2 separate regions of the Homo sapiens genome follow, and region 1 is linked to region 2. The links come from fine-mapping of genetic effects on gene expression. A gene starts in region 2. The other region holds a variant in brackets. All regions are shown on one strand. Distances are from middle to middle.

Region 1 (5,365 bases), 24 kb after region 2:
CCCCAGGCTGGGGAAGTCACCTGTCCCAGACCACATGGGTGATAACAACTGGTGTCAAGATCTGAGGGGCTCTGGAGCCCTGGTTCTGCCACCCCTTGGTGCATCTAGAAGGCCAGGACTTGTGTGCCACTGGGGACCGCACCAGACCCCAGCTAAAAGGCTGGATGTTCCAGTATCCTAGACAGGTTAGCACTCACCAGCAGCCCGTCTAGATGGACTAGGACAATGTGACTCCCGGAAGGGGCTTTATGCAGATGCAAGAGCTCCTGGTCCTCCCCCATCGCCCTTCCCCCGACCCCCGCCCCGCCACAGCCCTCCCTGCTGGTGAAACAGCCAGGAGGCGGGGCTGGTGACAGGGAAAAGGAGAGCGCTTCTGATGATTTATTTATTTGTATTTTTCTGGAGGAACAGAATGGTTTGTTTTGGTTCTGGCTGCCTGGCAGGAAGGCAGAGTGAGAGGAAGCAGCCTCGCCAAGCCCACTACCACGGCGAGATGCCCGCTTCCAGCCACGTGGGCCATAGAGAGACTGCAGAGAGAGGGGTGGGGCAGGGGCCCTGACGTGGTGAGAAGTGTACTGCCCTCCTTCCCATGCCAGGGCACTGCCAGACACCAGCAATGGCGACTCAGACTCAGGTCCCTGGGCGATCTGTGGAAGCCTCCGTGTGGGGGTCGCGGTGGGCCAGGGCGTGCAGGGGATGTGGTCAGTTCTCTCTGGGGACAGGGAAAGTCTCTCTGGAGGAGGTGGCTGGGAGTGGCATCTCCCACAATGCATGGGCATTCCTTCACCAGGCAGATGGGCTGCAGGGGGTGGGAGGTGGGGAGGGACTCTAGGAGGACAGAACAGTGCACCCAAAGGCCTAGCATGTGCAGGCATGGACGGTGGTCCCTCCCTTGGCCACGCGTGAAACCTCTGACCCCCAAAGCTTTGCCCTTCCCCAGGGGAAGGAAGTGAATGAACACTTATGAGGACTTCCTCCAACACAAGGGGCCTGACTCATGCTGACACCCTCCATCTGTTATCTATGAAGGACCTTCCACTAGCCCCGTTCACTAGGGCTGAGGCTCAGAGAGGGTGAAGCCCTGCCTGCAGCCACACAGCACACAGGGGACACAACAGGGTTTGGGTCAGCCGTATCGGTCATCCTGGGCTTAGTTATGCCAAGGAGAGGAGCACCCTCAGAGGTCCCGGGAGCTTGAGAAGCGAAGGCTTCCTTTTGGCTCATACTCTGGGTCCTTCTTGGGCTCTTTGGTTCTATGTGTAAAGCATTCTGTGACAAGGCCGTAGAAGCAGCCCCTATCCCGGGTAGGATGGCCCTGCTGTAGAAGGAGAAGGCAGTGGTGAAGCCACACACGTCGTGTCTCTAAGCTTCTGCTCAGAAGTGGCCACAGCATTTTTGCTCATGTTTTATTGGCCAAAGCACGTCACTTGTCCAAGCCTGTTACCAGTGGAGTGAGGAGAGACAGAGGGATTGACCCTATTGGGAACACCCTCAGCCAGGCGCAGTGGTATTTTGATAGTAATAGACTCTGCTTCACCAGGTATATCCAGGCCCAAAGCCCACACACCGCCACTGCCCTAGACAACCTCAATCCTGCTGTGTGACCTTGGGCGAGGCACTTTGCCTCTGGGTCTAGACCTATTAAGCACTCTCTCTGTGCCTTAATCACACGAGCCAGCATTCCAGGGGTCTGTCTCTCTCCAGGCCCTCGTGTTATCTCACAGCCTCACACTTACACCATGAAGTAGGAGGTCTAGGTATCCCCATTTCACAGACAAGGAAACTGAAGCTCAGTTTCCCAAAATCACAGAGAGAATTTTGCCAAGCTGGGATTCGGATTCACACAGCCTTGACGTCTTGAGCCCACACCTTAGTCGCCAGAGTCATCCACCTTGTCTCGTGGACCCGAGGCCACTCCTGCCAATGGGCTCCATACTCCCGTTTTTTGTTTTTTTTTTTTTTTGAGACTGAGTTTCCCTCTTGTTGCCCAGGCTGGAGTACAATGGCACAATCACAGCTCACCACAACCTCCGCCTCCCGGGTTAAAGCAATTCCCCTGCCTCAGCCTCTCAAGTAGCTGGGATTACAGGTGCCTGCCACCACGCCCAGCTAATTTTGTGTTTTTAGTAGAGACGGGGTTTCTCCGTATTAGTCAGGCTGGTCTCAAACTCCTGACCTCAGGTGATCCACCCACTTCGGCCTCCCAGAGTGCTGGGATTACAGGTGTGAGCCACTGCACCCAGCAGGCCATACTCCCATTTTTTAGACGAGGTTAGCAGAGGGGCCATCGGCCATCTTCCAGCTGAGCTGATGTTTCGTTCTGGCCTGCTGGCCTCAGGAACTCTCCTCCTCCACCCTCAAATGTGACTGCCTGGTGGGGTGGTGATGGGGACTTCCATCCCCACACTGGCTGCAGCTGCTCTTCCTGCTGACGGATCTGCTCCTGTGCCCCGGGAAGACGTTCAGTGAGATTCCTCCATCAGAGGTTTTGTTTACTGCTTGGGAAACACCAAAAGAATTTGAATCAGTAAATATCCCAAAATACACTGAAAAAATTGCGATCTGCGGCTTTGGCTGCCTTCACATCTTGCTCCATAAAACAGCCTTTGGTTTTTT[A/G]TCTTCTGCCATTTACAAAACACACACCCACACAACAAAGACCCCTGCATCTGGATGGAATTAATTTCCAGGTCACATATTTTTCATTACATTTACAAAAGTTTTTTAAAGACCTGAATCTTCCCAGCTGGCTGACCACAGGGAGGGCCAGCCGTGGCAGGCCAGGGGAGTGGTTTCAGCATAGTGCCCATGGCCTGGGCGTCCCCGCCTGCCACCTCCAGGGTGGTCACCTCACAAGGAAGGGCGAATCAGCAAAGGCAACACCCCCCGGCAGGCAGGCCCCTCCCTTCCCTGACAGGGAGGATGAGCTGGGAGGGCCGGGGGTCATGTCATGTGTCAATTGCAGCAAGCTGGCTGCAGAGGCCAGGAGCCCGGCAGTAAACACACACACACACACACACACACACACATTTACAATGACACACTGATCTGCACGGTGCCCCAAGGAGGGAGGACAGGGACTCGCCCTCAGTTCCTGGTAGAGGGTGGGCCGGGACAAGCAGGCACACCACGCAGGTACAGGGGACCCCTCTTTGGACATCTATCCTAGATTAAACCATGGAATTCCCCCAAGATCAGCTCACTTGAAGTCAGAGAGGGACCTGGGTCCAGCTCCCAGTGCTGCCACTCACCAGCTGTGTGGCCTTTGGCAAGTGACTTTGCCTCTCTGGGTCTCATTTCCTCATGTGTGACATGGGAACACTAGCTCCTCCCTCATGGTGCCATTGCACGGATTCAGAAGCACAGGGCACTGGCGCATAACAATTGCCAGTGTTTTTATTAGCTGCTGGCGCACAAGACATGCAGCCTATAAACTCCAGGGAAGTTAGTATCAAAGCAGCCACTGTCACCAGCCCATTCTCAGCTGTCAGTATGTGTTGGTGTCAGTATTTACAGCCTAAGGCTGAGTGCTGGGCTCATAAAGACAATTTGAACCCCAACCCCGCCTTCAGGGCCCTCCCAATCTCCAGGGGCAGACAGTCCTACAAAACAACAAAGACAACAGTGTGTTCTGGGAAATCCAGTGGCTTTGAGAATGCAGGGTAGGGGTTGGACTGACAAGGAAGGCTTCCTGGAGGAGGCGATATCTGGGCTAAGACACAGTGCCAGGGCCAGCTGGGTGTGCAGGAGGTAGGCAGGGGTTCTGGAGAGAGGTGCAGCATGGACAAAGGCCTCCAGGCAAGAGAGATGTTGGGCTGGAGCAGCATTTCTTTTCTTTTTTGTTTTTCTTTTTTTGAGACGGAGTCTCGCTCTGTCACCCAGGCTGGGGTGCAGTGGCGCAATCTCAGCTTACTGCAAGCTCCACCTCCCGCATTCACGCAATTCTCCTGCCTCAGCCTCCTGAGTAGCTGGGATTACAGGCGCCCGCCACCACACCCAGCAACTTTTTTTTTTTTAATTTTTAGTAGAGACGGGGTTTCACCGTGTTAGCCAGGATGGTCTCGATCTCCTGACCTTGTGATCCACCGGCCTCGGCCTCCCAAAGTGCTGGGATTACAGGCATGAGCCACCGCGCCTGGCCCCTGGAGCAGCTTTTCTACCTGAGAACCCGGGTGGCCGCAGCCAAGGCAGTGTGCTATAGTGGTGAGGAGCGCAACTCTAGAGCTCAGCTGCTGAGTTCAAATTCTGCTTCTGCCCCTTAATGGCTGTGAGCTCTTAGGCAAGTCTCTTAATTCCACCGAGCCTCAGTTTTCCATCCGTAAAGCAGGGATGACAATGATGAAAAAGCTGTTTCCTCCCGTGGTTGCGTGAGCATTAAATGGGCTAACGTGGGAAGCAGGTAGGGGAACGAGCGTCCACTGCCACTTCTGGTACTATTATTTCTTGGCCCAGTGGTTCGAGGCCCAGCCTGTGGCCCAGCCACACCCCCAGCTGGCATCCTGGACCCCTTCTGCGGACAGCATCTGCACACAGCTGCCCTGCCTCCCCTTTCCCCGTCTCCTCCCTCAGCCCCCGTGGCTGCTGCCATGGGAACCACCGAAGAAAAACCTGGCACTTAGAGCAATTCCGTGGGGGCTGCAGCAGGGAGGGTGCTGGGGAAAGCAGGAGGGCCTGGGAACTGGAGCCAGGCCTGACTCCTCGGTCTACATGGACATCTACCCCGGGGACACCTGCCCCAGCATACTGGATGGGGCTGCAGGCCTCTTTTTCCTGGAATTCCTGGAAGGAATTCCATATCCAGATGCCTCCAGGAAAAGCTAGCCTCTCTTTAACAGTCTCTTTTTAACATAAGGCCGCTGGGGCCTGGCTGTCAGTCATTTACACCTTAGCATGAGCGAGCCCATCAGTCTGATGCAGGCTTCATGGTGGTGGGGGCTGGGAGGTGGGGGCAAGGAGGCAGCAAGGACGCACAGTGACCGGGAGCTGTGGGATTACAGCTACAAAGCCTAAGCACTGGCCTACAGCTGCTCATGGGATGTGCTCAGGACATGCAGAGACCTCCCAGCCAGGAGCTCCCAGGCACCCGAGCAGCATCTTCAGGCCAAGAACTTGGCCAAGTGAGAGGAGGGAAGGCATTCTAGGCAGAGAGCGAAAGCGAGCTTCCCCGGCCCTGGGCTCAGCCCTGGTCAGGGCCAGAGGAGCCCAAGGGAAGCAGCCCCCATCTTCCTACAGAGGCCACTGCTGGCGCCAGGGCTGACCTAAGCCTGGGAAGATCTGGAGCCTGGAAGTCGAGACTGGGAGAGGCCTCATGCTCATCTCCTCCAGGCCCAGAGACAGGCAAGGGTTTTCCCAGGCCACACAGCAAACC
Region 2 (5,365 bases):
TGCATCCTTGACCCAGGTCCCTCTCCCCAGGGTGCACCACGTCCCAACTGGGTTCCCTGGCTTGGTCTGCTCCAAATCTGGATTCCACGTGGGGGCCTGCTATTTGTAACCTTGGGCAAGTCACAGAATGACATGTCCTGTTGCAGGAGCATGATGTGTGGGAGACCAGGTCTGTCACGGGCACTGCAGAGAGCACTTGGCCCCTGGGGGGTTATCATTGCCCTGCTCCACATCGATATGGGCGGTTTACACTGTGCAATGCCTCTCCCCTCCCTGCCCCGGACTGTGAATCCTTTGAGGGCCAGGATGGAGACCCATCCTGCCATTGCGGAATCACCTGAGGCCGGGGAACTGCTGCCTGTGAGCCTATGAAGGAGGCAGCAACTCCCCAGCAGTGGCTCAGGCAGGGCCCTGCGTGTTCTTCATCTCAGTCATCCTCCCCTTGACCTGGAGGGGCCAGGATGGAGGCATGGCACCATCCACAAAGGAAGAAACCAAGCCTCCTCGAGGCAGGTGACCCGCCAGGCAGGTAACAACAGCGTAAGAAGCAGCATTGGGATTCTGTGGCCCAGGTGACATGGGGCCACCAGCTCAGTTCCAAACATGGAAATATAGGAGGATGTTATATGGCCTGGTGTCCTCAGTTTATAGATGGGGAAACTGAGGCACAGAGAGTTTATAACTGGGAGGGTCTCAAAGGGACGAGGTGTATGTGGGCTCAGTAGGAGGAGGCTGGGAATTCACACCGATTCCCTACTGGAATTGGACAGTTCCGGCACCACACCCAGCAGCCTGGGACTGTGAACCGGAAAAAAACGCTCCTTTCTCAGGGACCCCCAGCCAGGCCAAAGCAGCTTCTGCAGTCCCCACCCAGGCCCCTGTGTGGGTCTCAGCTGCCCAGAGGGGTGGGCCTGTGTGCAATGGATGGGGGCTGGGGGGTACTGTAATCATTATTTTTCTTTACATATATTTTGAACCTTGATTTTCTATTCTATTTTCCAGACTCCAGGCCATGGAGTCAGGCCCATGTCTCTGCCTGCTTCCTGGTATTCGCCCTCGGCAGTCCTTGCCAAGACTTCTTTATTTACTTGTTTGTTTGTTAATAATATAAGAAACATCCTTGACCCATCCCTCAGCCTGAGAGCAGGAACGTCAGCCTGTGCGCTCCCAAGCAGGGCCCACTTCACCCCACGTCCCGCTGTATGCCTTGCTATAGCCAGATGCACTCTCAAAAAGAACATTTTATTTACAGTTCTTTTTAGCCTTCTAGAAAGCGTACTGTGCTGAACTTCATCTTTGGAGACTTTACTTTCTCTCTAGCCTCATAGCGCTGAGATGCCCCGTAATGTTCTGTGCGGCTGCAGTGCATTTGGGTAGCTGAAGAGTGTTCCGGTGTTTGGCCATAACACCATGCATTTTCCTATTCATCCACTGGGCCGTCTCCAGGGCTGTCTCCAGGTTTTTCCATAGCGCCGCTGTGAGCTTTCTAGAGCCTGGTCCCCTCGGCCGAGAGGGGATGTTGGTGCTTTTCCTCCCCCACAGTTGCTGAGGCAAAGACCCACTGTGCAAGAGGATGTGGTCACAGTGGCCTCCCTGAGGTGGGGTCACCTTCCCTCCAGGCAGCCCTCACCCCGGTCTGCCAGGCAGGTTGGTCTTTGTTGTGCTTCCAACCTCTGTCAAAGGTGAACTTTTAAAATTCCTGCCTCGTAGGGTGGATCGCAAGGAGTAAATGTCATTGGCGGACCCATACTTTTCTATGTCATAGGTGTTCCAGATCTGGTGCACAGGAGGTCTGCTTTGAACTATAACAAAATCCACAGGGCAGTCCAGGCTCAGAGAGACAGAGAAACATGCCCAGGATCACACAGCTGAGAAGCGGCAAGGGACTTGAACCCGTGTTCAAACCCCAAGCTCAGAGCCCTTTTGTTTCTCTGCTGCTATGCTGAGCCCCAGACAAGAGGCAGGAGGAACTTTGTGTGCCTTGTTCCCTCTGCCAGGAACACTCCCCCACCCCCACCCCCGCCCCACCGCCCGACTCATCCTTCAGGTGTCCACACCAGACCCCCTGGTCTGAGTCCCCAGCCAGGCGACCCAGGACGAGTTACTGAAACTCTGTACCTCAGTTTCCGCATCTGTAAATTGGGGATAATCACAGCCCCTCCTAATCATGAAGATTAAATAAATACCACCCCCACTCCCGGCCCCTACCCCGTCAGGCTGCATCAGGCACTCTGGGCGCCCATAGCCCCCTGGTTTCCCATCGTGGCACCCATCGCTCTGGGCTGCCATTGTTGGGACCGTGGTTAGATGAGGGGCACCCAGACCAGTCTGAACTCGCTCTCTGTCCACCGAAAGGAATGGAAAAAGGAGGTTTATTTCTGGCCTGGCTCAGGATGGGCAGGCTTCCAGGGATGGGTGGGAGGCAGAGGAGGGCTGGCCTCCTTTATGGCTGCGTTTAAATGCCACCCAGAAGCCAGCCAAGGGCGCCGCCAAGGTACCACGATGCACGAAGGCCCAGGGGTGGGAGACGGCCATGGGCTGGGGGGGTGCCTGGCACCCAGGAAGTGTGGCTGCAGAGGCCAGCCAGGCCCCTGGGCTGTGTCCAGACAGTCATGGAAGCCACTGATGTGTTTCGAACAGTGGCAGGTGTGGGCATCCCCCGCCCTGTTCCTGCCCCATCCCCACCCCATTCCTACTGGCAGGGAGGACCCTCTGCTGCTGGGTGGGGACAGGCCAGGGGTAGGGGGGCAACAGCAGGAAGATCAGCCCAGCTTGGAGTCAGGCAGGTGCCACACACCCTCTGTGGGCTCTCGGGTCCCAGCTACCCTTCCTCCCCGGGCTGGTGTGGGGACCGTTTGTTTTACCCACACCCCTCCCCGGGCCATGCTGGCCAGAGGGGCTTGTGCAGTGGTGCCACTGACCTCCATTGCCCAACAGAGACTGAGGGCCACGGGAGGGAACCCACATGTATTGTGCCAAGCATCTGCTGAGGTGCGGACCTGGAGCCCGGTGCCCTGGGTCTAAGCCCCTGCTGCTTCTAGCTGTGGGATCTCACAGGGAGTGTCTCTAGTTTGCTCACCTGTAAAATGGGGCTCTTGCTGGTGCTCTGAGGATGCACAAGGCTGTAAGACCAGAGGCTGGAGTGCGTGGGGACTGCGGGAGCAGCCGCTGCCATCCTGGGCCTGGGAGGTGGCGGCCCTAGGCCCAGGCGGGAGCTGGACTCCTGCAGGGCTGACTCAGCGCCCTAGCCCCACTCCCCGCCCTGAGGAGCACACTGAATTCTTGTCAGCACACAGAGGCCAGCCTGCGCTGGAAAACACTCTTTTGCCTATACAAGGCTCGACCAAGTTGCTCTCCTTTTATTGGGGTTTAAGGTTGGTGGCAACCAGGAGCCGGGGAAGAGGCCAGCAGCTGCAGGGAGACCGCAGCCAGCGGAGGGGGCTTCTGATCCCTCAGTCACAGGGCTCGGCAGGTAAGGAGCAGCCTGTGGAGGTTTCCAGGTCCTCACTGTGCAGGGGCACCTCTGTTCCTTCACGCTGACCCTGGGGTCCCTGCCCTGGCTAAGCACTGGGTCTAAGGGAGAAGCCAGGCAAGGCTGCTAAGTGACTCCTAGTCACAGAAGAATGGGAGGGGCCGGGGTGACGGCTATGCCAGTGGGGCAAGATGGGGAGCAGGCTCTGATCTAGAGGGGTGGGAGCCCTGTGGGGGTGCACAGATGCTGGTGCTACTACCTACCTGCTGTGTGACCTTGAGCAAGTTGCTGACCGTCTCTGTGCCTCAGTGTCCTTGTGTCAAGAGCCTTGCATAGAGAGGGGTTGGAGAGAAGGCCAAAGGCTCGGGGGAGGGTCCGGCATGGCCTAGGGAGTGCTCTCAGGATGCCCTAGTCATGGCCTGGAGGGCATTTGGTTGGCTTCACGGGGGTGAGGTGGGTCTGTTCGACCCACTTCAGAGTCTGCAGTCCCAGTCCAGCATCACACCGGTACGAAATAAGTGAATAGATGAATGAATGAATGAATGAACGAACAAATGAATGCATTGGCCCCTCCGAATACGCCTTCAAGGCAGGTTTGTTGTCCCCATTTACAGATTGGGAAACTGAGGCTTAGGGCTTTGGCTTCTCTTCACTCCAGTGAGGAAGGGGTTCTGGGGACCAGGGAGGCTGAGGGAGCTGAAGAGAAACCCAGAGCCACCCCCACCCCGAGGCGAGCGCCATGCCTGTCTTTCCTCTTCCTGCCCTGACACTTTAAGTGATTCATTCTTCATGTGATATTTTTGTGTTTCTCCAGTGGGAAAAAAATGCCTCTGGGATTTCCAGGGGTTGTTTTATCTCCATGGTGCAACCAAATAACTCAGGAGGACAGAGAGAAACAAAGGGTTGTTGAGCTGAAGAAGGCCCATGATTGTCTCGGCCAAGCTCTCCCTTTAATAGGGGAGGAAACTGAGTCTGGCCTGAGCCCCTCGCCCTGTGACCCAGTGTGGCCCCCTGGAGGACAGTGGGGCATCTAGGGCCTTCAGCAGGGTTGGGGTTTCCAGCTAAGCCCCTTTCAGCTGTGTGTTCTCGCTCAAGTCCCCCTTTCCCCAGGCCTCAGCTTCCTCATCTGTAAAATGGGATCACAGTGGTGCCTACTTCCAACATTCGAGACAGTAGCACATGCAGAGAACTTTGATGGGTGCAGAACTGGCCCAGGCCAGGGGCTCAAAAGGGGGAACCATTGAAACAGCTGAGTTTGTAACTTGGACTCAGAGCCCAGCTGGCTGGGGCATGGTGGATTCAGCAGGGAAAGGTGTCAGTGAGGGACAAGAGCCTTATTAGGGATACACTGGAATGGTTATCCACTGAGGGAGGGATCTGGGGAGATAGGAGAGGTTTCCACGTTGGAGGTCACCTGCGTGCCTTCCCAATTCCAGCACCCAGGCCAGCACCCTTCGTGGCAGTGTGCTTCTCCTCGTGGCCCTGACCCTGAGAGCAGCCCCATGGAGCAAGTGGTATGCCCGCCTGGTAGGGAGACAGTGAGGGCCCAGGGGGTGTGAGCCGGCCCACCTCAGCTCCCCTGGACTTAGGGGGACCTGTCCCACTGGAGCCCTGGAGTTGGGTTTCTAGGCTAAAATAAGGGACTTCCACCCAGGGCTGATGGCCCAAGGTCACTCCCGGTGGTGGCCGTAAAAGTTGAGGCCATGTCTCAGTTGAAGGAGATCTCCTGCCTGGATCTCTGCTGTTCCCATCTGGAAGTTTGCTCTTTGCAATAAAACAAACCAGGCCAACGAGTGCTAATGGAGTTCCTACTCTATGGCCGGCAGACATTTATTCAGCACCTACTGTGTGCAAAGCATGGTGGGGCGATGCAGAGGCACAAAATTTCCCACC

Direction of the effects. Positions count from the first base shown, and alleles are read on the strand shown. Sizes are in standard deviations (SD) of each study's normalised expression.
As copies of G replace A in region 1, the expression in esophagus mucosa of the gene that starts at base 3,272 in region 2 goes down (small effect, 0.29 SD a copy in GTEx).

The links. PIP is the estimated chance that this variant, and not a neighbour inherited with it, causes the effect. A credible set is the group of variants that fine-mapping cannot tell apart.
Region 1: its variant is the best candidate, but not a certain one, in a credible set for the expression of SHISAL1 in esophagus mucosa (GTEx, PIP 0.55).

What each region holds. Positions count from the first base shown.
Region 1 is chr22:44,287,128-44,292,492 of GRCh38, reverse strand. All of the region lies in intron 3 of SHISAL1 (shisa like 1), which reads left to right. Among named protein-coding and RNA genes, the nearest start is that of SHISAL1, 23 kb to the left of the region's middle. RefSeq lists an enhancer at 1,666-2,609. The variant A/G (reference allele first, on the strand shown) is at 2,617.
Region 2 is chr22:44,310,858-44,316,222 of GRCh38, reverse strand. It overlaps SHISAL1 (shisa like 1), which reads left to right and starts at 3,272. Exons shown (of 5, transcript NM_001099294.2): 1 at 3,272-3,472. LOC101927499 (a long non-coding RNA gene) reads right to left here and starts at 3,212. Exons shown (of 2, transcript XR_244444.3): 1 at 3,080-3,212; 2 at 1,224-1,802.